Homo sapiens: one gene and its partners. The protein of the gene in region 2 interacts with the protein of the main gene of each other region in a biochemical or structural test. Each region holds a gene or a part of one and is shown on either strand. Other genes may lie near its edges.

The links.
Region 1: the proteins of CASK (region 2) and RRBP1 interact in a test that uses a peptide from one of them, tested with the Homo sapiens proteins (one large-scale study listed by IntAct).
Region 3: the proteins of CASK (region 2) and CTNNA1 interact in a test that uses a peptide from one of them, tested with the Homo sapiens proteins (one large-scale study listed by IntAct).
Region 4: the proteins of CASK (region 2) and RSRC2 interact in a test that uses a peptide from one of them, tested with the Homo sapiens proteins (one large-scale study listed by IntAct).
Region 5: the proteins of CASK (region 2) and ADGRA3 interact in a test that uses a peptide from one of them, tested with the Homo sapiens proteins (one large-scale study listed by IntAct).
Region 6: the proteins of CASK (region 2) and ZSCAN30 interact in a test that uses a peptide from one of them, tested with the Homo sapiens proteins (one large-scale study listed by IntAct).
Region 7: the proteins of CASK (region 2) and SORCS3 interact in a test that uses a peptide from one of them, tested with the Homo sapiens proteins (one large-scale study listed by IntAct).

Annotation. Positions count from the first base shown.
Region 1 is NC_000020.11:17,613,179-17,616,242, forward strand, and holds the end of RRBP1 (ribosome-binding protein 1), read right to left. Parts: intron 2,832-3,064; coding exon 2,748-2,831; intron 2,352-2,747; coding exon 2,253-2,351; intron 1,703-2,252; coding exon 1,559-1,702; intron 1,043-1,558; coding exon 1,004-1,042; 3' UTR 501-1,003; downstream 1-500. UniProt on the Homo sapiens protein: Acts as a ribosome receptor and mediates interaction between the ribosome and the endoplasmic reticulum membrane.
Region 2 is NC_000023.11:41,532,055-41,535,554, reverse strand, and holds part of CASK (peripheral plasma membrane protein CASK), read left to right. Parts: intron 1-581; coding exon 582-662; intron 663-768; coding exon 769-849; intron 850-3,500. UniProt on the Homo sapiens protein: Multidomain scaffolding Mg(2+)-independent protein kinase that catalyzes the phosphotransfer from ATP to proteins such as NRXN1, and plays a role in synaptic transmembrane protein anchoring and ion channel trafficking.
Region 3 is NC_000005.10:138,780,925-138,784,424, reverse strand, and holds part of CTNNA1 (catenin alpha-1), read right to left. Parts: intron 2,503-3,500; 5' UTR 2,501-2,502; coding exon 2,396-2,500; intron 1,249-2,395; coding exon 1,053-1,248; intron 1-1,052. UniProt on the Homo sapiens protein: Associates with the cytoplasmic domain of a variety of cadherins. The association of catenins to cadherins produces a complex which is linked to the actin filament network, and which seems to be of primary importance for cadherins cell-adhesion properties.
Region 4 is NC_000012.12:122,502,954-122,506,445, forward strand, and holds the end of RSRC2 (arginine/serine-rich coiled-coil protein 2), read right to left. Parts: intron 2,754-3,492; coding exon 2,574-2,753; 3' UTR 501-2,573; downstream 1-500.
Region 5 is NC_000004.12:22,387,067-22,390,566, forward strand, and holds the end of ADGRA3 (adhesion G protein-coupled receptor A3 precursor), read right to left. Parts: intron 2,118-3,500; coding exon 2,022-2,117; intron 1,882-2,021; coding exon 639-1,881; 3' UTR 310-638; downstream 1-309. UniProt on the Homo sapiens protein: Orphan receptor that may have a role in planar cell polarity pathway.
Region 6 is NC_000018.10:35,255,730-35,259,229, forward strand, and holds part of ZSCAN30 (zinc finger and SCAN domain-containing protein 30), read right to left. Parts: exon of another isoform or gene 2,210-3,500; coding exon of another isoform or gene 2,199-2,209; intron 1-2,198. UniProt on the Homo sapiens protein: May be involved in transcriptional regulation.
Region 7 is NC_000010.11:104,644,290-104,647,789, reverse strand, and holds part of SORCS3 (VPS10 domain-containing receptor SorCS3 precursor), read right to left. Parts: intron 1-3,500. UniProt on the Homo sapiens protein: Plays an important role in modulating synaptic transmission and plasticity in the hippocampus, probably by affecting the trafficking and localization ofAMPA-type glutamate receptors in the postsynaptic density.

The DNA of each region.
Region 1 (3,064 bases), on a different chromosome or scaffold from region 2:
CTGAGGGTCGTGGCAAACCTAAGCTGGTTTCTGCAGGTGAAACTCCACCTCCCGAGGGCAGGCAGTGGGCTGCTCCAGCCCTGGCCCACCCTCCTGGGGTGTGGGTGTCTAAGCCCCAGCCAGGACAGAGACCCCTTGTTCATTCCCGGACCTCCATCACGCAACAGCCCGGGCCACCAGCCGCGCTCACAAACCTCAGCCCCTCCGGGATGCGGGGCAGCAGTAAATGTATCTGGCTCTCAGGTGTCGCAGGCCCTGCTCCCTTATCCTGCCCGGAGGGCACTGAGGTCTGGGAGGTGACAAGGAAAACTGCTGGGGGCCCCGGAAGCAGCGAGTCTCAGCCCCACCCCACGCTACGCGGAGCTGCAGAGCCTCTGCCTTCAAAGCAGCTGAGGCCCACGCTTACTCTCTTCCCGAGTGCGCCCCCACCCCTTGGTTCTTCATCTTGGGCCCAACAGCGGGTGGGGGAGCCCCAGCAGAAGACCAGACGAGACCGCAGCACCGGGCACCAACGTTGGTTTTAATGGCATCAACACCCAGGAGGTCACACGTCAGTTCTGGTTGGCAACGTCTAGGGGTGAGGGGCTGTGGCCTCCAGTCGGCCCCACAGCCTTTGAGAACTGGCTGCCCGGTCCCACCCGCTTCCCGCCCCGCCCCACTGAAAAAACACTAAACGATTGCACTGACAGACAGACCCCAGAGCGCCCGGCCTCCCACACACCCACGGGGCTGTCAGAGTCAACCAGGGCTTTGGCGTCACTCGGCGGTGGCCCGGGGCTGCGCCCAGGATAGTGTTTATCAAATGTGACACAGGTTCATTTACAAACTGGGGCTCTGGAAGGTCTACTTCTGTGGCTCTAAGAGACTTGTCTCTCATGGCTTCTCTCGGAGCTACCGGAAGTTGGGCCTGGATAACGCTGTGTAGGTTGGTTGGTTTATTTGTAAGGAATGTGTAAGGCATTTTGGTAAGTTGAACAGTAACTTCTTTTTCCAAAGAGGAAACTCAGACAGAGGTGCCCTCCTTTGAGCTGCTGCCGTCCTCCTGTGAACGAAGGCAGGTGGCGTGAGGGGGGCTGGGCCACGAGCCATGGCAGAACCACCTGCCCTCTACCCTGGGCCTTTAGTCCCTCCCTGGATTGACCCCCTCAAGCCACTCCAGTCCCTCAGAGAACAGGAGCCACAGACCCCTGGGGCTGGGGGACAGGGAGGACTTGGTGGGAGCTGAGGGGAAACCATCATCCTGCAGGGCAGGGGCTGGAGCACTGGCTAAGGGGCCCACACAGGTGCAAAGTGAGGACCTGGGCCAGCAGGGGGATCAGACACTCGCTTCCCAGCAAGGGAACCCCAGAAGGGTGGGTGGTGGGCCGGGTGGGCTGAAGCCCTCGTTAGGAAGTCTCTGTCCCCACTACCTCCGCCCAGCTCTGCCTCCCCTGGGGCTCCCAGCCCAGCGCTCCCAGCAGCTTGACGACTCCGCCCAGCTCTGCCTCTCCCGGTCCTGCCTCCCCGGGGCTCCCGGCAGCTCGACTCCTCCCGCCCTGCTTTGGCGCCAGGCACGCACTGCCTTTTCCAGCTGTTCCTGCAGCTTCTTCACCGTGTCCTTCTCCCTTGCCAGCTGCTCCTGGGTCGTCTTCAGAAGCTCCTGCAGTCTCGTGGCGGCGCGCCCCAGGTCACTTGTTAACTTCTTCTCTTTTTCTAGTCTCTCCTGATGGTCAGAAGGTTGACGGGCATCAGCCCTTGCACCGGCAGGAGGGCCACCCCAGCTATGCCCACAGGACCCTGACGCCAGGGGCTGGAGCCCTCTGGGGACACAAGGAAGGCAACTCCTGGTCACCCGGAGATAGGTGGTGACGACAGGGAGGAAACCGCCCATGCTGACCGTGAGGGCTGGGTCCTGTGCTCTCAGCACCACCAGAACTTCCTGGGGCAGGAGCAGTTTACTCCGCACTGTCCAAGGCAGCACAGGAGACACACCTGACTACTGAGCGCTGGACGTGTGGCTGAGGAACGCACTTCACGTTCTACATGCTTCACATTTCGACAGCCACCAGGACTAATGGCTGCCATGTGACCATGTGACACTGCAGGGCTAGGAGTCCCCACCCCAGCCCCGGGTAGTGACAAGGGGAACCAGTGCCAAGGGCAGGTCCCGGTGGGGTCGGCTCTCCCCTTCCTGGCCCCTTTCCGAGGCCAAGAGTGGCGCCAGCCCCAGAGCAGACCCTCCAGGTGTGACCCCCGCCCCAGCCCCTGCCTGCCTTCAGCTGTGAGGCCTCCTCTGTTTCTGAAGACTCTAGGGGGCCGGCTGTGCGGAGCTTCTCCAATTCTTCTTGTAACCGACATGCCGAGGTCTGAGCCTTGCCGGAGAGGGAAGTGAGGTCTGGGTGAGACGTCTTATAAACGGCTGTGCTGTCAAGACCCTACCGAGCACGCCTGGGGACCAGGGGGCCCCCCCAGCCTGATGGAGCAACAGCTCCATCCTGTAGCTGGAATGAGTGGGCCAGACCCACAAGTTCTGACCCAGCCCCAGGCCCTCAAGGCTCCTCAGGGATGCAGACCACCCACAGGGCTCCCAAGGTGCCTCCAGCCTGTGCTCCACCTGCCCGGGCCCCACCCACTGCTGCCCAGAAGGCCCAGGCCCAGCCCAGGTGCTGCTGGGCACAGCCGAGCGGGGCAGGGCTGACCCACTCATTCCCTGGAGACTCAGGGCCCAGGGGCTGATGGGGGCTGAGAGCCACCAGGCAGGGCCTGACCTCCTCAAACTCGGCCGTGAGCTTCTGCCGCTGTGTCTGCTCATCCTCCAGGATGGCTTCTGTCCACTCCAGCTGCGTCTTCAGCTGTGCAAACACCGCAAACATAACCCGGCAGCCCGGTGAGGAACCCTCCAGGGGCCCAGGGATCCAGCACAGGCACCGCTCTCTAGCTGCTTCTAGCTTCCCCTTTCCCTGCCCCAACGCTCCCCTCGTTGGGGAGAGGGCACCTCAGCCCCTGGTACAGACTTCGGTGTGGCTCAGGAGCAGCTGATGGGGCCTCTGCAACCTCAGGGGCCTTTAACGAGACTCACAGGACA
Region 2 (3,500 bases):
GATAAGCTTGTGCAATAGTTACAGAACTTGCCTTAGAATCTAGCATGCCACCTTCATCAACTCTGTTGAAAGAAAGAACCATGAAGTTAAAGACCAGCTGTCCATGCATTTCTCATCCATCTCTAGAAATGATCTAGCTGGCCCCTCTCCTGGTTAACTTTAGTTGCATTCATGCTATATTCATGTTGGTCACTGTCTGTAGACTTTTTCTTTTTAGTATTGCTGACTTCTTAGAATTGGAAAAATATGAACAGCATGTGGTTTCAAATTAATTCATATGATTTGTTGGATACTACATGAAAAGATATGTAGTATCTTTTAGATTTGGACATTTTAATGCATGTGTTCAGCATCTTTGGATGCCCCTGGTTCTAAAGAGCATTTTCATGGGCTTAAAAATGAAAATTTCTCCCTAGATGCTATATGACTTAAATTACATGTAAGCCATATATCATAAGTTGGATTCATATTTTTAAGACATGGTTTTAATATAACTGTAGTTTTGCCAGTAAAATTATAATTTATGTACATGAAATAGTCATTCTACAAATTTACCTTTCTTCTAAATCTTTGCGTTTTAGTGTTTGATCAATTAGATCTTGTCACATATGAAGAAGTAGTAAAACTGCCAGCATTCAAGAGGAAAACACTAGTCTTATTAGGTAAGTTTGATTGTGTAAGTGAGTTGCTTATTCTCACTTTCAAAACATTTTGTGAACATTATTAAGAGTTGTCAGTTTTAACATTCTTTTTTTCTAAATGACATAGGCGCACATGGTGTTGGGAGAAGACACATAAAAAACACTCTCATCACAAAGCACCCAGACCGGTTTGCGTACCCTATTCCACGTAAGCAATGTCTCAATCTCTTTTCATTATATTTTTCCTATCACTTTTTTAACTCTATAATTTATGTATTTTTTTCTGATTACATAAGGTATAACTGTTCATTGTAGGAAATTTGTAAAATCAAAAAAAGAACAAGGAGGAAAATGAGTTAACAGTAATCCCAACCCCTCTTTCCCTATAATAAGTGCTATAAATATTTTGTTGTATACCCTTCTAGGCTTCTCTGTTGTATACCCTTCTAGGCTTGTCTTAGTACAGATATGTGTATAAAGTGTGTGTGTGTGTGTGTGTGTGTGTGTGTGTGTGTGTGTGTTTTAAATAAAATTAGTTTTATCCATTCTGTTTGTAACAATTTTTCTAACAATATGTCATACACATTACCTAGATGAATTATTCTTCAGAAAAATAAGTTTTCATAGTTGTACAGTTTCTGATATGACAATTTTTTTCCCTTAGTTAATATTTAAATTGTTGATTTCTTACCACTTTTTAAACCCAATCAATATGCTAACAGTTGTTTCTGTAAAGATTTTCAAATCTGTAAGATTTTTAATTCTCCTTATTTTCCGTATCTTATTCTTAACCTCTTGCCCTCTTCATTTTCTCAATTGTAAAATGAAGTAATTCAGGATTGCAGAGAGGATTTGAGATCATGTGTATGAAGCACTTAGCAGATGGTGGATAAGTAGAAGCTATCTACCACTATCATTTCATTATTATCATCATTATTCTAAAGTTTAAAATTTTAGGCCAGGCGCGGTGGCTCATGCCTGTAATTCCAGCACTTTGGGAGGCTGAGGTGGGCGAATCACCTGAGGTCGGGAGTTTGAGACCAGCCTGACCAACATGGAGAAACCCCGTCTCTACTAAAAATACAAAATTAGCTAGGCATAGTGGTGCATGCCTGTAATCCCAGCTACTCAGCAGGCTGAAGCAGGAGAATCAGTTGAATCCGGAGGTGGAGGTTGTGGTGAGCCGAGATCGTGCCATTGCACTCCAGCCTGGGCAACAAGAGTGAAACTCCGTCTCAAAAAAAAATAAATAAAATTTTAACCCCAGAAGCTTTCTAGCAGCTCAGGGTTGGAAGAGCTAAAGGAAAATTATTTTTTAAGAGCAACAGGAGAAAATGTGAAGATTGGCTCCATTCTATAGGGCCTTCACATGCCTTCCTGAAGCAATGTCAATACCACTTACAGTTATCTGTACACCTCAGAGAGCCAGGAGGCTTCATGAGAAAACCTTCATCCCAAAACCTTGTCTGATTTACACAAGAAAAGAAATGTATCCAATAGTGTCTCATTTGGCACTACTGGGGTTTTCTAGTAAAACACTTTGAAGTGTTCTTTTAATTCTCCTTATGTCTAGATCATGAGTACAGCAAGCTTAGCTAACATTTAGCTTCTTCTTAACCACGTAACAACTGAACTTCCATGTTATTAAATGGCCAGTTAACTAGTTTGGTTTTAAAACTTACCTTTGATGATGTCAATCATGACTAGTCTTTGAAATATTTGACCCTGTATGTGTATATAACATATATCTAACTACTGAGATGACTGAAGATAGTACAACATCAATATGTTATGTAAGTTCTTGGCTGGGCGCGGTGGCTCACACCTATAATCCCAGCACTTTGGGAGGCCGAGATGGGTGGATCACATGAGACCAGGAGTTTGAGACCAGCCTGGCCAATGTGGTGAAACCCCATCTCTACTAAAAATACAAAAGTTAGCCGGGCATGGTGGCACACACCTGTAGTCCCAGCTATTAGGGTGGCTGAGGCATGAAAATCGCTTGGAACCCGGGAGCTGGAAGTTGCAGTGAGCTGAGATCTTGCTACTGCACTCCAGCCTGGGCAACAGAGTGAGACCCTGTCTCAATAAATAAATAAATAGTAACGCCGGTTCTTCAGCTTTTGATGTGCCTAGAGAAAGGGCTTCTCTTAAAATGTCCACATTTTGATGACCACGAGCACTTTATGTTCTAACAAACAGGCTAGCAGGAAAGGGGGATTCCCCATTAGTTTAGGCTCATGTATACAGAAGAGAGTAGCATAAATTTGTTCTTTCTCAAAGAAAGAAGGAAGCAAAGAAATTGAGAGAGAGAGGGAAAAAAAGGGAAGGAAGGGAGAAAAGAAAGGGGGGTAGGGAGAGAGAATATTAAAACCAGTGTTCCTGGCTCATCTAGAAAAACATTTCCTAAAGTGTGTTTTGCAGGATACTGGTCCTATTAGTATCCACAGAACTAGAGCTTATTGGCATATACTTCAGTTACACTCACTTAGGTGAGGGGTGGGCAAGCCTTTTCTGTAAAGGACCAGATAGTACACATTTGAGGCTTTAAGGCCATACAGTCTATCACAAGCACTTAGCTCTGCTGTTGTCTCATGAAAACAACCATAGGCAATATGTAAACAAAAGCACATGGCTGTGTTCCAGTAAAACTTTGTTTACAAAAACAGACAGTAGGTGGCCAGGTGCAGTGGCTCACACCTGTAATCCCAGCACTTTGGGAGACTGAGGCGGGCAGATCACCTGAGGTCAGGAGTTTGAGACCAGTCTGGCCAACATGGTGAAACCCCGTCTCTGTTGGAAATACAAAAAATAGCTGGGCATGGTGGTACACGCCTATAATCCCAGCTGCTCAGGAGG
Region 3 (3,500 bases), on a different chromosome or scaffold from region 2:
TATGGGTACTGCCACAGGGATGAATTTGACATAAGACTCTGGACTATGCAATCTACCATCAGGCACGAAAGATCTATGAAGTTCTCCCAAGGGTTAGTAAAGCACCTGTAAATAGCAGGGCTCGATTTACCTTAGCTGATATCCAATAACCTAAAAAACCTACATCATTGTTGAAATTCTCCGACTGGAAAAGAAACCTAACACACAACTACAGGTTTCAAGGCCGGGCACTGTGGCTCATGCCTGCAATCCCAGCACTCTGGCAGGCCGAGGCAGGCGGATTGTTTGAGCTTGGGAGTTTGAGACCAGCCTGGGCAACTAGTGAAACCCCATCTCTACTAAAAATAAAAACTGCAGGTTTCAAGAAGTTTATCTTCCGTATTTAAAGTCTTCCTTCCACATTTGTAACATAATAAGGACAATTTTTCTAGCATTAATTATTAGTAAACTGTGGATTACCATTTTACTTTTTATCAATTCTGAATTTCCCAAAACATGATTCCTTTATACCCAGATTTATGTCAAGCTCCAACCAGTTCAAATATGCATGGCTGATTTAACATACTATTCTGACACAATAGGACAATTTCTAGAGTATTTTCAGAGTAGGTAGATATTTTTCCATTTTATCACACCCATCTCTTCAGCATGAACTAAAAAGAAGTATTACACAGGATGAAAAGTAAACTTCGGTCCCATTTCTTTCCTATCAATTTGTGTTACAACATTTCTAAGACTTAACTATTACTTGAAATACCCAAGAGAAGTGGATTCAGATTCTCCAGATGTCCCTCTGCAAGCATCTCTCATGATTAAAATGAGCCAGTCCAACTTAATACATCTCCAATAACTAAGTTACTGAGCAACTGGCAAGCATAAGAATGAGAATTAAAATATGAGCCAGTCCAACTTAATACATCTCCAATAACTAAGTAAGTTACTGAGCAATTGGCAAGCATAAGAATGAGAATACTGACCACAAAAAAAATCTTCAAACACTGATTTTCTAGAAAGGCCTGCCTCTCTTTACCTAAAAAGCAGTAATGACCTACCTTGTTTTCGAACATCTTCTACAGCAGCCACAAGCTCCTCCTTGAGAAACTGGCTCTCCTTCGCAATTTTATCCCCCTTCTCCAAGAAATTCTCAGTTGCTTGTTCAACAGATGCAGCCAAAACATGGGCCTTCTTAGAACGACCTCTCTTCTTATTAGAGGGCCCTTTACTATTGGTGTTTACAAGGGTTGTAACCTAAAAGTTTCATTTTTAACATTAAACTGGAGTCAATTAAAATGACAAACTAATATCTTTAAAGACAGCAAGATTAAGTTATTCTTTTAAAAAATCACATGAGATTCCACTGAACATTAACATACAATTCCCCATATTTAAGATATACAGCAATGATGCTATATTTAATTTCCAAAATAATTCAGCTTTCTTAATGTGTACAGAGAATTATTTAACACATATTTTAATTTCTCAAATATGATCATTAGGTTTTTAGTTTGATTTTACAAATTAAAAAATGATTAGAGACAAGTTAGATGTCTCTACTATATGTCACCAAGATGTTCCAGAAAGAGGTTAACAATGAACTTAGCTTTATCTGGAGATCACACTGCCACTGTTTTCAAACTTTGCAAAACATTTTAAGATAATTTGCTTCTGAAGTCTTTTGACAGTTTATTCACACAAATCTCAGCAATTAGTAAAGGTCCCAATAAACGAATGATTGCCCAAAGAAGCCTACAGTGATGACGCTTTATGTCTTAGAACATTACCATCATTAATACACATAATACCAGATTATCTCTAGGTTAAAGATGATGAATATATGTTATAGTGTAAATTTGCCAAACAAGACTCATTTTCTCTCTCTCTCTCTGAATCTCTCACATACAAACAATAGACATACTATTGTAAAACACTAAAAGTACACAGCTAGTTGCTAACAGTTTATGAACTACCCTAACATTGTGACATTTGTAGCATACCAAACCTAAACCCTCAAGTTGAATTACCTGCTAATTAATCCCACACAATGAAAGGTGTGTTAAGCAGAGTGAGAGACCTTAACAATCAAGGATCCAGACTCCACCTTTCTTGGGTTTCCCCTCTGAAGAAAGGTGAAGTATCTGCAAAGCACAAACATTTGCAAAGTTGCACTACATACCATGGACCCGTTACTAGCAATAAGACTGAAGAAAACGACAGCAGCAGCGTTCTCAAGGGTTAACTAAACCCATGCATCAATATTCAAATCATCTAAGAACTGTCACCTAAACTCAAGTACTGGAATTAAGGCTTTGAACTAAATAACCTTGCTCTTATGGTTGTTACCCAGGCCTGTGCTATAGAACCATGTTACAATGTATTTGTGTTTTCAGATTCTTACCTGTGTAACAAGAGGCTCCAACAGTCTCTCAACTGCCAGAGTCCTGATCTCTAGACTTTTAGGATCCCACTTGAAGTTTATGTTGCCTGCATGGACAGCAGTCATTTCTAAATAAGAAACAAAAAGTCAGTCAGGCAAACATCAAACACAAACATGAAATATGTAACAAATCTTCTCCTACTTTGGGACTTTTGCATCAGGAAAGCTATATTCACTATAGATGAAAAAATTCTAACTAGCCTACACATGAAGACCCAGTAAACCTTACAACCTCTTAATATTTAATGATTTCAGGCTTACAAATAGGAGGGGTACTACAAGAGGGCATTCCCAAACACACAGAATGTTTCCCTTTGGGCTTCTCTAGCACCAAGACTTCCTACCTCAGTTCCTACTCACTTTATCTGCCCCACCTTTAGAAACAAGATGAAAAGCTAAAGTGAATGAAAGCTACTTTCTTTTTTTTTTTTTTTTTGAGACAGAGTCTTGCTCTTTCGCCCAGGCTGGAGGGCAGTGGTGGATCTCAGCTCACTGCAAGCTCCGCCTCCTGGGTTCACGCCATTCTCTGGCCTCAGCCTCCCAAGTGGCTGTGACTACAGGGGCCCGCCACCACGCCCGGCTAATTTTTTTGCATTTTTAGTAGAGACGGGGTTTCACCGTGTTAGCCAGGATATGATGGTCTCGATCTCCTGACCTCATGATCCACCTGCCTCGGCCTCCCAAAGTGCTGGGATTATAGGCGTGAGCCACCGCACCCGGCCAAAAGCTACTTTCAAAGACACTGCTTCAAAAACGAATACAGAAGATCCTGATTTTTCCTACTCCACAACATTCATGGTACAGTAGTATCTAAAAGGTATGCTTCACTTCATTTTTTGATGGATTCCTAGAGAAGGACTTGTCTTATTCTATTAAAACATAATGTTTAAATCAGCTGCCCTCTGCACCCACAGCTATTATCACTCATAGCCAGAAGAAATTTCAAATCACACTTAGTCAAATATCACTGTATCAGTGTCAAGAGAAACTTCTGTCAGACAGCGGCTTTAAGAATAGGGAGAAAACATCAACGAAAATAACAGTTAGTCTTTTCTTCTAAAAGTAG
Region 4 (3,492 bases), on a different chromosome or scaffold from region 2:
CGAAAAATACAAAAATTAGCCGGGCGTGGTGGCGGGTGCCTGTAATTCCAATTACTCAGGAGGCTGAGGCAGGAAAATTGCTTGAACCCAGGAGACAAAGGTTGCAGTGAGCTAGGATCATGCAACTGCACTCCAGCCTGGGCAAAAGAGTCTCTCACAAAAAAAAAAAAAAGAAAAAAAGAAAAAAAAATTCTGCATGTAAGTGGACCCTAAAGTTCAAACCCATGTGTTCAAGGGACAACTGTAATTTCATCTTTTAATTATTTGCATTTGGCTACTCAAAAAAGAAATTGAAATAAAATACTTAGGCCAGGCACTGTGGCTTCACACCTGAATCCCAGGTAGCACTTTGGGAGGCTGAGATGATGCAGATCATTTGAGGCCAAGAGTGGGAGACCAGCCTGGCCAACAGCCTGAGAACCCCATCTCAGGTACATTGTCATGGGCCTTTGGTGCCAGCTACTCAGGGGAGTGAGGTGGGAAGATCACTTGGACCAATATACATATACACACATATTTTATTGGACAGTGCTGCTCTAGATGAGCAAAGTACAGGCTGTATCACTCATCATGTATGGTCAGCTCCTAAAATAACTGTAGACACACAGGAAGCTTTTGCGTCCACACTGCCTTAGAAGGTCATGAACATTTTTAATAAGATTGATTTAAAAAGGCAGAGCTTAATTGAAAAATGTTGATGATCACGAAATGAAGGATCCATAGTGTCATTTCCTTAGAAGGCTTAGATTTGTCACTGAAACACGGTGAAAAGCCATTTTGCCATAGAATTTCTGTGCTCTGGGAAAATGAAAGGTTTATTAAAGTACATTAAAAATCTTACAATCTGGCTAGGTGAAGTGGATCACACCTGTAACCCCATCACTTTGGGAGCCCTGAGGTGGGAGGATTGCTTGAGGCCAGGAATTCAAGACCAACCTGGGCAACGTAACAAGACCTTGTCTTTATAAAAAATTAAAAACAAGCTAGGTGTGTTGGTGAGCACCTGTGGTCCCAGGTACTCAAGAGGCTGAGGTGGGAGGACTGCTTGAGCCTGGGGGAGCCTGCTGCAATGCACTGCACTCCAGCCTAGGACAGAAAGCAAAAAAAAAGAAAACACCCCATTACTTCATTTTCATGTATAAAAAAAATACCTAATGAGCAAGTTGGCAAGACTTAATTCCAGCTTTTAAAATAAGGCTGTCAATCTTATTCCTGTAGTCTTCCCTGATTGTAATGTGCTCTCATTCTGTGATGTTTTCCAAAGGATTTTTCAAAGGAAAGCCAAACCTTATTACTTTGCTGTAACTGAAGTAAATTAACTTCAAGTTTTGCAGGCCCCCCCCACCCCTTGGCTCCAGATTTATGTTCAATCTAGTAACAAAACATTTTCTAGGCTGGCTGCAGTGGCTCACGCCTATAATCCCGGCACTTTGGGAGGCTGAGGAGGGTGGATCACCTGAGGTCAGGAGTTCAGGACCAGCCTGGCCAACATGGTAAAACCCCACCTCTACTAAAAATACAAAAATTAGCTGGGTGCGGTGGTACGCCTGTAATCCCAGTTACATGGGAGGTGGAGGTGGGAGAATTGCTTGAACCTGGGGGGCAGAGGCTCTGGCAGTGAGCCGAGATTGTGCCACTGCACCCAGTTTAGGCAACAGAGCAAGATCCTGTCTCAAAAAAACAAACAAAAAAAATTTCTAATATTTTAATATTTTATAGTCTATGCTGGAGAAGACTTCAAAGGGATAATGAGCAAAAAGCATGCAAAGAACTTGTTATAAGGCACTTTATTAAAATAAAAGTGCTTACATCCCTTTAATGCATTAATCTATCTCCTGAATAACACATGTAATATTTGACAAATACTGAATACCAAGTCTGTCCCTTATAATAGGAAAACATACTATTTTAGTAAGTTTTCTCCTTCCACCTTTTACATTTTTGCTCACCACGGTATTGACTGTAGTATAGTTAACTGGCCTTAAAAAGGGTGGTGGGGAGGGGATTTCTAGCTAGTGTTTTCTAACAGCAATTGCCAAATGCTACAGAAACTATAAAACAAATTCAAAGAAACATCCCAGGTAACTTAAATTAACACCAGTTTTGAGAAAACCATTTTTATTATCATTACCACCCAGCTTATCTGTGCTGGATTATGTACCAAATGGCCAGATCTTCTAAAGAACATCTACATAACATTTCTTTCATGTTTCAAGAGATGAAAATAACTGTACAAGGTTAAGTACAAAAGTACACAAGACAGCGGACACGAAAAAATCCATGTATGAGATTTTATCCCCACCTGCAGCTTTTATATATTTGAAAAGTAGAATTCATGAACTAAAAAATATTATCCTTCTATAGTCCTGTCAAGTTTAATGGAAGTGGGTTTAACCTGATTACAACACTAACACCAGTATCACTGATCTGATATTTACAAAAATTTGTATTTTTCAATAAATTAAAGTCAATGCAACACCCATGCAAGCTAGAGTGCTAGCTGTTTGGTGAACAAGGACGTGACATCAGAACAAGAAGTCTATAAGTCCCAAACTTTACAAGTGTGATCATTTTCAAACTGCATCCATTCCTCGCATTGAAGATGTGAAACCCAAACCCATTCCTCTTTGTGTGTGGGTTTGTGATCTTGCCATTTCATACTGAGCATCTAAATTTCGAAATACTTCTTCCTGCTGCTTCAGAGTCTTGTAACTTTCTTCATCAACTGAGCTACATCCAGCTTCATCTTCACTCTAAAAATCAGACATAAAACATTACAATGAATTCAGATGGAGATAAATATTCTCTCACTTGACACTATTTTTTATGTATTTTTTTTTTTTGAGATGGAGTCTTGCTCTGTTGTCCCGTCTGGAGTGCAGTGGTGCCATCTCGGCTCACTGCAACCTCTGCCTCCTGGGTTTAAGTAATTCTTATGCCTCAGCCTCCCAAATAGCTGGGATTAGAGGCACATGCCACCACGCCCAGCTAATTTTTGTATTTTCAGTAGAGACGGGGTTTCACCACATTGGTCAGGCTGGTCTCGAACTCCTGACCTCAGGGATCCCCCCTGCCGCCTGCCCCCCGGCCTCCCGAAGTGTTGGGATTACAGGTGTGAACTAGGCTGACACTATTAAATTATACTTTTGGCCGGGTGCAGTGTGGCTCACGCCTGTAATCCCAGCACTTTGGGAGGCTGAGACGGGTGGATCACCTGAGGTCAGGATTTCGAGACTAGCCTGGCCAACATGGTGAAACCCCGTCTATACTAAAAACAAAAAACAAACAAACAAAAATATACTTTTGGGATATGTATTTGATCTCAATAACTTAATTTCCATTCATTATTGAACACCTCCAAAGGACAAGGCAATGTTCTTTCTAGGTCTGGAATATAGCAGGGTGTAACAAAAGTTAACTTCAGTTTAGTAGGTTGGAAAAAACATAATATGTAGAAGATGTCAGGGTATAAATGCCACAGAGGAAAGTAAA
Region 5 (3,500 bases), on a different chromosome or scaffold from region 2:
TGAAAATAGTATTAATAGGATCCAAGGAATAACGCAAAAGTAAGGCAACGTAGGAAGTTTTTTAGGCATTTCCATTTTCAAAAAACATCCTGAGAGATCCTTTTAAAACCTGGTAATATTTAAAACTAGACTTATAAAATACAGCAACCCAAAAATCACTTTGATTTATGTGCCAAAATCAATACACTTAACCATGCAATATATATATATAACTGACTTATGTGTAACTCTAATTAAAATACCCCAAACCACTAATTTCATTAAAATAGAACTAAATGCTTATATTGTAAAATATAAAAATAACAGATCGACACAATAACAAACACCTATTTATTATATTAAATACAAGCCTGAAATATTAAGTACAAATTACAGATTCCAAGAAATTACATTTCACATCCCAAAATGTCCTGTTGGTGCTTTGACAACTAAAACAATGTTTTAGAAAGATTTTGTTTCAGATCCTAAAAAATAGCAACAATTTGGGGATAAAAATAAGTAAAATCCAAAACTTCAAAGTTTATTCCAAATTCTTTTGAATCCCTATGGTGGCTGTAAACAGTTTTTAAATGCTCATAGCTTCAAGGAATGTGAGTATCACAGTTTATATGAATTTCTGCCTAGGAAGCCCAGCAATGTTACACAGTAGTTTCGTGTTTCCATAATCCAGTCCTAACATTGCCAGTGCTATCGGTACCGAGCAAGGGTCCCTCCTGCCCATTGCTTTTAATTGGTCCATTCTGAATGGCCAAGTTGAGGCCATAAGATTTTTGCTGATTTTCAAGTTCAACCACAGCTGGCTTCCTTAACGCATCTTTTTTACTAGTGGTTGAAACTGGCTTTTCAAAATTTCTGCTACTTTTGGGAAGTGTGCTACAAGCATCGCTGCTGTCTTGCTGGGGTGGGTTGTACTGTCTCTCTCTGTAGGCTAAATAAGCTCTTCGGCTCCTCGAGTGTCCTTCGTTATTGCCCAGCCGGCTTTTAGGTAAGCCGTTCTGCACGCTTCCTTCCACGCTCGTTGGGACATCGTAGGCATATTCTCTCAGGACTGTGAGTCGGCTTGCCCGGTGTCCTTTACTTCTGTTTTTATGGTGGCGGCTTGAGTGCACATTTGTTCGAAACTGAACTTCTAAAGGCGCCACGTGCATTTTAATATCATTGTCCATTGAATGTTCTGTCAGACTATTATCAAGCTGAGGGGTGGAGTTCAAAGGTAAAGAATTGGCATGGCACTGAGCTGCAGCCGCCTGCAAGTTTGTTAATTTGCAGCCCTGGGAGGAATTTTTGAAGCTTGAAGCACTTTTGTTTGTGCATGAAGACTCCGCACTGCTATTGGGGCATTTGGGTGCCTCTCCATTCGTCCCATTAGAGTTGGGGGGCTGGACGTTGACTTGCACTGAATACGAGCTCCGTCCTGGGCAGCAAGTCATGATCCACGCAAGTCTAACATCCTCCCTATTAACACAATGGTGGACCACGAAGAACGCACTGAAGCTTAAACTTGTGGCTCCAAAAACGAAGCTAAAAACCAAGTCCAAAGGGTAATACAAAGAAACAGCCAAAGCCCCAAACATCCACAGTGCAACATATAAGAGCAAAGTAAGGCTGGCCCCCAAGAGCTGAGAATGAAAAGTGTGCTCATTTTCCAAGGCTGATGTAGAAATCAGAGACAAAGACATTGAATCCTGATGATTTATTTCGCCATTTTCATTGGCTGCCAATCTCTGTTGCTCCTCCGTGGGCTCCTTAAGCTCATATTTGCGCTCAGGGTGTCTTTTCAACTGAATAAATATGCTCAGAAAGTACATGCAGTTTACAAAAGTGATGAAGCTGGCTGGCCCATAGAAGGCTCCCAAGGAGGGTTCCCATGCCATCCAGCAACTGGAAAAGAAAATGGTAAACCAGATCGATGCTACATGTTTCAACAAATTATCTACGAAATTGCAATCACCTGTAATGCCTAGAAAATACTTAAAAGAGAAACAACTGGGTCAAGTACACAGAGAATATAAAATACTCACTAGGGTGCGTTTGGCCGACTGCCGTAATTCTTAATGTTCGCTGCTGCAGTTATGCCGCAAACAATGATGGGGATACCACCACCAATCAGGTAAAATCTAGAAGGAGGAATCACAGGAAAAACCACTCATCATTCCATTTCTTAACATGTATCTCTCATAATGTCTCAGTACTTCAAAAGTCATTCCCTGAAGATTAATTATTATCTTTATTCCAATAATAAGCTGAGAGTTAAGTTGGGAGGCTGATTTATTAGCAGTAATGTGTTTTTATTTTGTTTTTTAGATTTCTTGTTTTAAAGCACAAGGTCTAGTAAGTTTCTGAGTAGAGGAAAGCTGATCGGCTTCTGCCACCTTGTGGACAGGCAAAGTAACACTCTGAGCCTGCTGGTAGGATTTCAGCTTACTTACTCTTACTTTTTTTTTTTTTTGTAGCAGGAACTGGCTTCTTTTAGATTCAGCCGGTGAACTGAAAAGTGCCTTAGTTCACACAAGAAATGTAATGACATATTAATTACTGACTAATGTTCAGCTCAACCTGCATGTCCCAGGACTGCCCACTGCTGTGTATCTCATCGCCAGTCCACTGAGATTAAGGTAAGGAAGGTATCTGGATCCCAGCAGCTTCACAGAGTGCAGAGGCCCTACCTGACCCCTTTTCCAAAGAGAGGTGGGGACAGCAAGGGAAATGATGGTGCAATAAAAACTGATTGAAACAGAGCAGTGACTGGTCCTACAAAGAAAAACTCTGTGCTCATCTCTGAGCTCCTTGATCTCTCTGAAAATAAATTTCCATTCTGGGTAAGTCAGAATCTTAATTTTGCGTTTGCTCCTTCCTGAGACATGGCCCCAAATCTTGCACTGGGTGGATAAAGGCAATATCTCTGATACATTTGTCCATATATTGTTTCTTCCTTGTACCTAGTTACTAAAATCCTTTAACATGATGTTAGTACTGCTGAAAACTAATTACCCTATAAAACTATAATTCTGCCTTCTATTCCACAGATTAGAGAGATGCCAATAATACGTGACCTTCCCCTTCTTCCTGCTGTACTAATTCACATCTGCTTCTTACCTGAAAAGAAAGTATTATTTCCAAAATTAATCTTGGGTCCTATCACCCTCTCTGTCTTCTTTCAACGCCCCCTACCCCCGTTCTTGTTATCAAATAACCCTATTTTGCATCTTTAAAATCTTCTCTATTGCTTATTTCTAGCATGCTTCTCTACTGCTTATATATATATATATATAAAATACATATTATATATATATAATACGTATTATATATATATAATACGTATTATATATATATATAAAATACGTATTATATATATATAATACGTATTATATATATATATAAAATACGTATTATATATATATTCAAGTTTCCCCATCTTCTAAAACTTTCCTTGAACTACCACTTCTTTTCTCTCTTCCTTCTGCCAACGCTGGTACCACCACTTTCTCGCCTTTATCACC
Region 6 (3,500 bases), on a different chromosome or scaffold from region 2:
TGGCTTCCCGTTTTCCCCATTCCTTACCAGAAATTAAACACAGATGACATCACCTCTAAAATTCATATTGTCCTTGGATTTTAGATAGAAATTTAAATTATTCATTGTTTCATTCAAAAAGAAAACATTTATGAAAAATATACTTGCATACAATAGAGGCATAAAAATTAAAAGTACCAAATAGGTTAAAGTCAGAGACCCAACAACCTAATGAGAAATTTTCTGAAAGTAATAAATAGGTCAAATTATTAAGAGCATCAATTATAGGGTATAAAGTGGCAATATAATTGTGTAGGGACAAAATTAAGGGCAATGAAAATTAGAAAAGCAATGTAACTTATGGGATTTAAATACGTCTTCAAATTCTGTAACTATATGAAGTCAAATTATGAGACTAGAGAAAAATTTTGTCCTCAGATGTATACATCAGGAAGACATCAAGATTTTTATTTGTTCAACTATACATTTATTATTATATTTAAAAAGTTGGAATAAATAGCTAACTAGAGTAATTCTTAGAAAAGACAAATAGAGATTACAAGTAGAGACTGGGCACGGTGGCTCACACCTGTAATCCCAGCACTTTTGGAGGCTGAGGCAGGCAGATCGCTTGAGGCCAGGGGAGTTCAAAACCAACTTGGCCAACATGGCAAAACCCCATCTCTACTAAAAGTATAAAAAATTAGCCAGGCATGGTGGTGCACGCCTGTAATACCAGCTACTCGGGAGGATGAGGCACGAGAATCACTTGAACCAGGGACGTGGAGGTTGCAGTGAACCAAGATCACACCACTGCATGACAGAACAAGACTGTCTCAAAAAGAAAAAAAAAAAGATTACAATAAGAAATGGTCACTTGATTATTCAGAAATACTTGCATAGAGAGAACCCAATTACTATCTCCCAAGAATGAAAACTAATTTGTAATCAGGCTCAAGTCTGGAGGCTGGAGGGTGGGGTACAGATTTATAAGAGGCTCTTTGGAGGAGAAATAAGGCACAGGTATCTCTGTTAGAAGAGCTCTTCTGTTTTTGTTGTTGTTGTTGTTGTTTGTTTGTTTTTGAAACAGAGTCTTGCTCTGTCACTCAGGCTGGAGTTCAGTGGTACAATTATCAGCCACTGCAGCCTTGAAATCCTGGACTCAAGGGATCCTCCCACCTCAGTCTCCCCAGTAACTAAGAGTACAGGTGCGCATCATTGCATCCAGTTAATTAAAAAATTTTTTTTGTAGACACGGGGTCTTGCCATGTTGCCCAGACTGGTCTTGAACTCCTGGTCTCAAGCAATCCTCCTGCCTCAGCCTCCCAAAGTGATGGAACTACAGGCACGAGCCACCACACCCAGCTAGCTTTTCTCTTTAACACACCTCCTGCTTTTCTTACTTGTTCTCTGGGGTGGCTCCTCAGTGAGTTCTGCCAGCTCAGCAGTTCAGTGAGCAATTCCATCCTGTTTAGTTTAAAATCCTTTTAACTAGGGATGTGGCCTTCAATTGCATATTGACGAGTATGCTTTTAGCCTTAATGCTATGTCAGTGATGCTCCACTGCCCACCCAGTTCCCCTTTACCAATATGATGCCTCCTTCCCTCAGCCACTGTGAATGTTGGCTCCTCCAATGATGTGAATGTCTGTGTCTCCCCAAAATTCATATGTTGAAGTCCTAACCCCCAAGGTGATGGTATTAGGAAGTGCGGACCTTTGGAAGGTGACTAGGTCATGAGGGCTTAGTGATCTTATAAAATAGGCCCTATGGTGCTCATTTGCCCCTTCCACCACGTGAGGACACAGTGAAAAGGTGCCATCCATGAGAAAGTGGGACCTTACCAAATACAAAATCTGCTAGCACCTTGAACTTCTCAGCCTCCAGAACTGTGAGAAGTAAATCCGTGTTGTTTACAAGCCACTCAGTTGATGGTATTTTGTTATAGCAGTCCTAACCGATTAAGACAGCTCCTAACTATACAGAGATGCCTCCTTCTGTGGAGAATTACCCAGGCTGATGAGAGCCACTTGGCCCAGGAAGTAACTTCCACCTTCATTGCCCCATCTCTGCGTCAAGAAGAGACAACTCTGCAGTGCAATTATGCTTCAGCGGCCCATGAAATGCTCCAAGGATTAGACCAAGCCTAGACTGTAACTGAGACCACATCATTGCTTGCTCTTTTCCCTTCCTAATCCTGCTTCTCTCTCTCCATTACAGATTTTTCCTGAAGAACACATCGTCAATAAATCACCTGCACCCAAATCTCCATCTCAGGCGCTACTTCTGGCAAGGCATATCATGAGGCTAGTGAAGCACCTACAAGAAACTTATAACTCAAGGTTGTAAAAATGGCATGGTGACTCTTACAATCATATCACAGTGGGCCTCTCCAACAATTTAAACCTCATGACCTAGGTGAAAGCTGTGAAAGGATCCACATTAATTCTTCAGAGGCAGGGCTAAGACTTTCAAGACTGAAAAGAGACTAGCATAAGGAGACTTAACAGGAACCCAGTCAAGGCCATTCATGGCCATGGGACCACGCATAAATGGAGAACGAGTAAATTTTGCTAAGTCCAAGGACATTGGAGAGATAGAGTCACTATTACTGATATGGTGACTGAGTCAACAACATACTGCCACTATGAAGTAATAAGAAAATAAAAAGTTAAAAAATGTAACAGATAACAGTTGGAGGGTGAATATATTTTAAATCAATCAGATTCTCATTAGAGTATTTTATTTTGTCTTGATCCCCAAACTTCAGATGAATGTGGAGAAACTGAAGCATGTCCAGAGAAAAGTGGCAAGATATCCAAACAGACAGAACACAGATGGGATCAGAGGGAGTGAGAGGCTTAGTTAAAACAAGGTCAGGAGGCTGGGCACGGTGGCTCATGCCTGTAATTCCAGCACTTTGGGAGGCCGAGGCGGGTGGATAACAAGGTCAGGAGTTTGAGAACAGCCTGGCCAATATGGTGAAACCCCATCTCTACTAAAAATACAAAAATTAGCCAGGCGTGGTGGCGGGTGCCTGTAGTCCCAGCTACTCGGGAGGCTGAGGCAGGAGAATCACTTGAACCCAGGAGTTGGAGGTTGTAGTGAGCCAAGATCACACCACTGCACTCTAGCTTGGGCGACAGAGCCAGACTCCATCTCAAAAAAAAAAAAAAAAAAAAAAAAAAAAAAAAGGTCAAAGTGCAGTGTACTCACTGCATTCAAGTATAGATTGTGTTTTATGAGGACTCTGTAAACTAAAGAAAGTGGATTATGAATAAATTAAAGTTGGGAGTATTTCATATGGACATAAGGAAGAATTTTAATATAGTATGTTTACTAGGGTTTCCACAACAAAATACCACAGAATGGGTGGTAAACAACAGAAATCTCTTTTCTCACAATTCTAGAGACTAGAAGTCCAAGATCAATGTGTCAGCAGGTTTGGTTTCTTCTCTCTCCTTGGCTTGCAGATGATGGCCACCTTCTTTTCTTGTTGTTGTTGAGATAGTCTCACTCTGT
Region 7 (3,500 bases), on a different chromosome or scaffold from region 2:
ATTCATACATGAAATAATACACCAGTTGTCTAAACTCAGTGTTATTAAGAGACAGTGTTAACCTGTTAGTTATCTTAGGGCAAAATGATCTTCTTTCCTCTCCTCTTACCCTGCAGCTAAGGCACAGTCCAACTCCCCAGGTGAGTTCAGTATTACTGAGCTATGTACTACCCTACGGCACATGCTGCCAGGCACGGATGAGAAGAACAGAACTCGCACTTGATGGTGATTGGAGGGAAGGGGTGCTGTTTTAATTATTTCAGCTCTTACCCTCAAATCACTCACCAAATAATATAAGACTAAAGTAAGTACTAAACTAAATATGACAAAATGTGTGGTGCACTCTGCAAATTCTATAAACAAGTAGGGGAAAAGAGAAATAAATGCTTCTAAGGAAAGTTTCACAGAGCCACTGAGTCTGAATGTTGAACTGAGCTATGAATAACAGGTGCCCTTTCATCAAGAAAGAAGGGTACCCCAAGTGGAACAGACCTCAAGATGCTTGGGACAATGAAGACGCTGCCCTGGCCAGAATGCAGGAGTCAATCAGGGAAGAGTCAAATCCAAAGTTGGAGAAGTAGACCCGGGACATACATAGCCTTGAATGCCAGGCTAATGGACTCTGGATCTGAATTTAAGAAACCGAAGTTCCTCAAGCCAGAATGTAGACACACTGGATGAAACACTCCTGGCTATGGTAGCTGTCAAGTTCTGAAATCATTGCTATCCCAGGCAACAACAATTTCTAATTCCTTTATAGCCTCTGCTTGATGAGACTTGAGACTGTCTTTCATTCACTCAGTCAAACATTATCAAGTGCCAACCATGTGTAAGGCAAAGCTCCCTCATCTCCACTGACTACCAACAAAGTCAGAGCCCTATCCAGAGCCTTTTCTCAGTTACCCACAACACCAGGAGAATAAACTTGGTTAGCCAAATTCGATCCATCCCACAGAGCCAGTTCTGCTTACCAGAACTGCCTAGTGACCCACTAGGCACTCACATTCTATATCTCCCACCTCCTCCTCCACAAGGCCTCTTTTCTCCTTCAAACTTACTGCAGAATCCTCCTTTGACATTTTCTCCCTGTAAGGGAAGTGTCTCAAACCAGCCAAGAGGCCAAAAGAAGGCAGAAAGCGGGAAATCAACAGGTAGGTCAAGCCACAGGCCTTAAGTGACTTAGCCAATCTATACCTAGCCTTGGATAAACCACTAGTCTCCAGCCAAATCTTTCTATCACAGAGTGTCTGCTTTGTTGCACCTCTCTGCTCCTTATGAGATGATTCAGGGCCCACAGATCATCCAGTTCCAGGATTCCTTCACTGACAATAGATTTACACAGCCCAAAGAAAAAGCAATTTTCCCTTCTGTCCACTGAGCCTTCCTGCCACTGAAGTCACCCTCCCTTTCCCTTAAATCCAACACCACTGGAGAAGCCACTCCCGGGCATTCCTTCTTTGCCAGCTACAAAGCAAGTTCCAGCCACTGCATTTCTGTAATCATTAAATCAGGCCTCCCAATTAAGGAATCTGCAACTTCTGCTCACCTTGGAAATCACTGAAGGATCTGAGAAGGAAATCACATCCTGTAATCCAGCCATCAGAGAAATCACTGAGCAGATAAATAGGCTGTGCCCAGCTCCTCCTCTCCCTACGGCCCCTCAGACCAACAATGACCAGGAGCAATTAGTACCGTTATGTCCCCATGCATTTCCCAGCTACATCTCAACTGAGATGGTTTCCCCTTGTAATACTAATTGAAAACAATTTTTTTGGCAAAACCCTGAAGAATGGCTTCTGTGGCAAGCTTCTTTATTAAGCCTCCAAAAAGGCAGAATGCATTAAGATATTGTGACACAGGAACTGTGAGCAGGGAGGATGAAGACAAGCAATCCAGCCAAAAGCTATTTGAAAAATCTGTTTGGGAGCCACAATTAGATGATCCAGTGAGTGAAATACAATTAATCTGATCAAATCTGTCACTATTTTGCACATTAGGAGTAAATATTTTAGAACACAGTCCAGCTGAATTAGTTAAGGGTAGGAAATCCTGCCTGGGAGAATCTGTGTTACACCTACTAGTACGCTCAGGGCAGGGTGATCTGGGAGGGCCTAGAAATATCAGCATCTCCCCATTTCTCTTCACCAAGATGCAGTGTTGGGCCCATTAATTGAGAACTACCTGGCAAGTATTCCAAGCAGATACACTGCAGGGGCAGCAGCCTGCAAATCGCTGCCACTTCGAGTGCGCTGCTGGAAGGAAATGAAGACCAATGTGAGGGCAGATGCAGTGTTTTCACCTTGGCACCAGGAATGGGGGCCCCATGAAGGGTTAATCCAAGAAGGAGGGGGTGTGGAGAAGTGGACTGTGCCTTCACAACTTTCCACTCTCCAGAGCCATTTGCCAACTCACTGAGCAAGCAGGGAGGCTTCTTCTTTCATTTGAAGGAAAAGGACAGAATAATGTGTTTTTCTGTTTCCCTGTAAGCCACGGGGACTGGGCTCCCTCTGGGTGTTTTTGAAACACTCTCTAACCCATTAATCACCAGGATTCCAGCTGGAGGCAACTGGAGAGAAAAAATAGCAAATCGCTCCTCCAGAGTAAAGGGTCCAAGGCCAAGTCCACTCACTTTCCAGCCAGAGCACCTGGCAGGCAACATGGTCAAGAGGTGGTACCCAGATCCCATGCCCTCCTGATTCCTTTGCCCAAAGCCAGTTGCACTCCTTCTCCTTTGTCCCCAAAGCCATCTCTTCTCAGTCCTGGGACCAAGGCAAATACCCAGCCCAAGCCTTGGTCAAGGGTCTCCTCCTGCACCCTCAACCACCTGGGGCACACACTGGACCAATGGGGTGGGCTGAAGGCCCTTCTCCTTCATGTCCCACCCTGCATCCCTGACTGTAAACTCAGTCAGAATGGAGTTCAATTTTCAATTTCATAGGGTTACTGAAAACGCTCCCCAAAAGGGAACTCATATCAAGCAATCAGGTGCATCAGAGACACTTGGAAGAAGAGCAAGGAAACCCTCATTGTGTTAAAAATTAAACTGGTGGCCTCCTGAATAAGGACATGTCTAATACTCCAGAAGCCAGAATAAAAGATAAAATTCTCTTTCCACGTCATAAGAGCCTGGAGCTAGGCCCCATGTTCTCTGTTTTACGGACATCTCCCTCCACTTTGAAACCAATGATGAAGGAATCTTCCCAAAGTGTCCTCATCCCCATCACTCTTCACCCTGGCTTTTATTTACAACACCTTCTTTTCCTGCCATCAGGAAAGGGGGACAGGAGAAAAACCAGCTGGGTCAATGTTGCTGAAACTGGTTTCCCAGTGACTCTCCAGGAGATTTCCTTAAAGTCTCAAAGACAGGGCCATGTGAGTATGCTTCTCCATCTTCTTTACACAGGCTCACAGACCTGATAATCAAGGATCTCTCTCTCGTATTGCCTACAAAATGTGGTCAGAAGAGACAGGTCCAGCCTAGGGGCTAAAGAGGCAGTTAT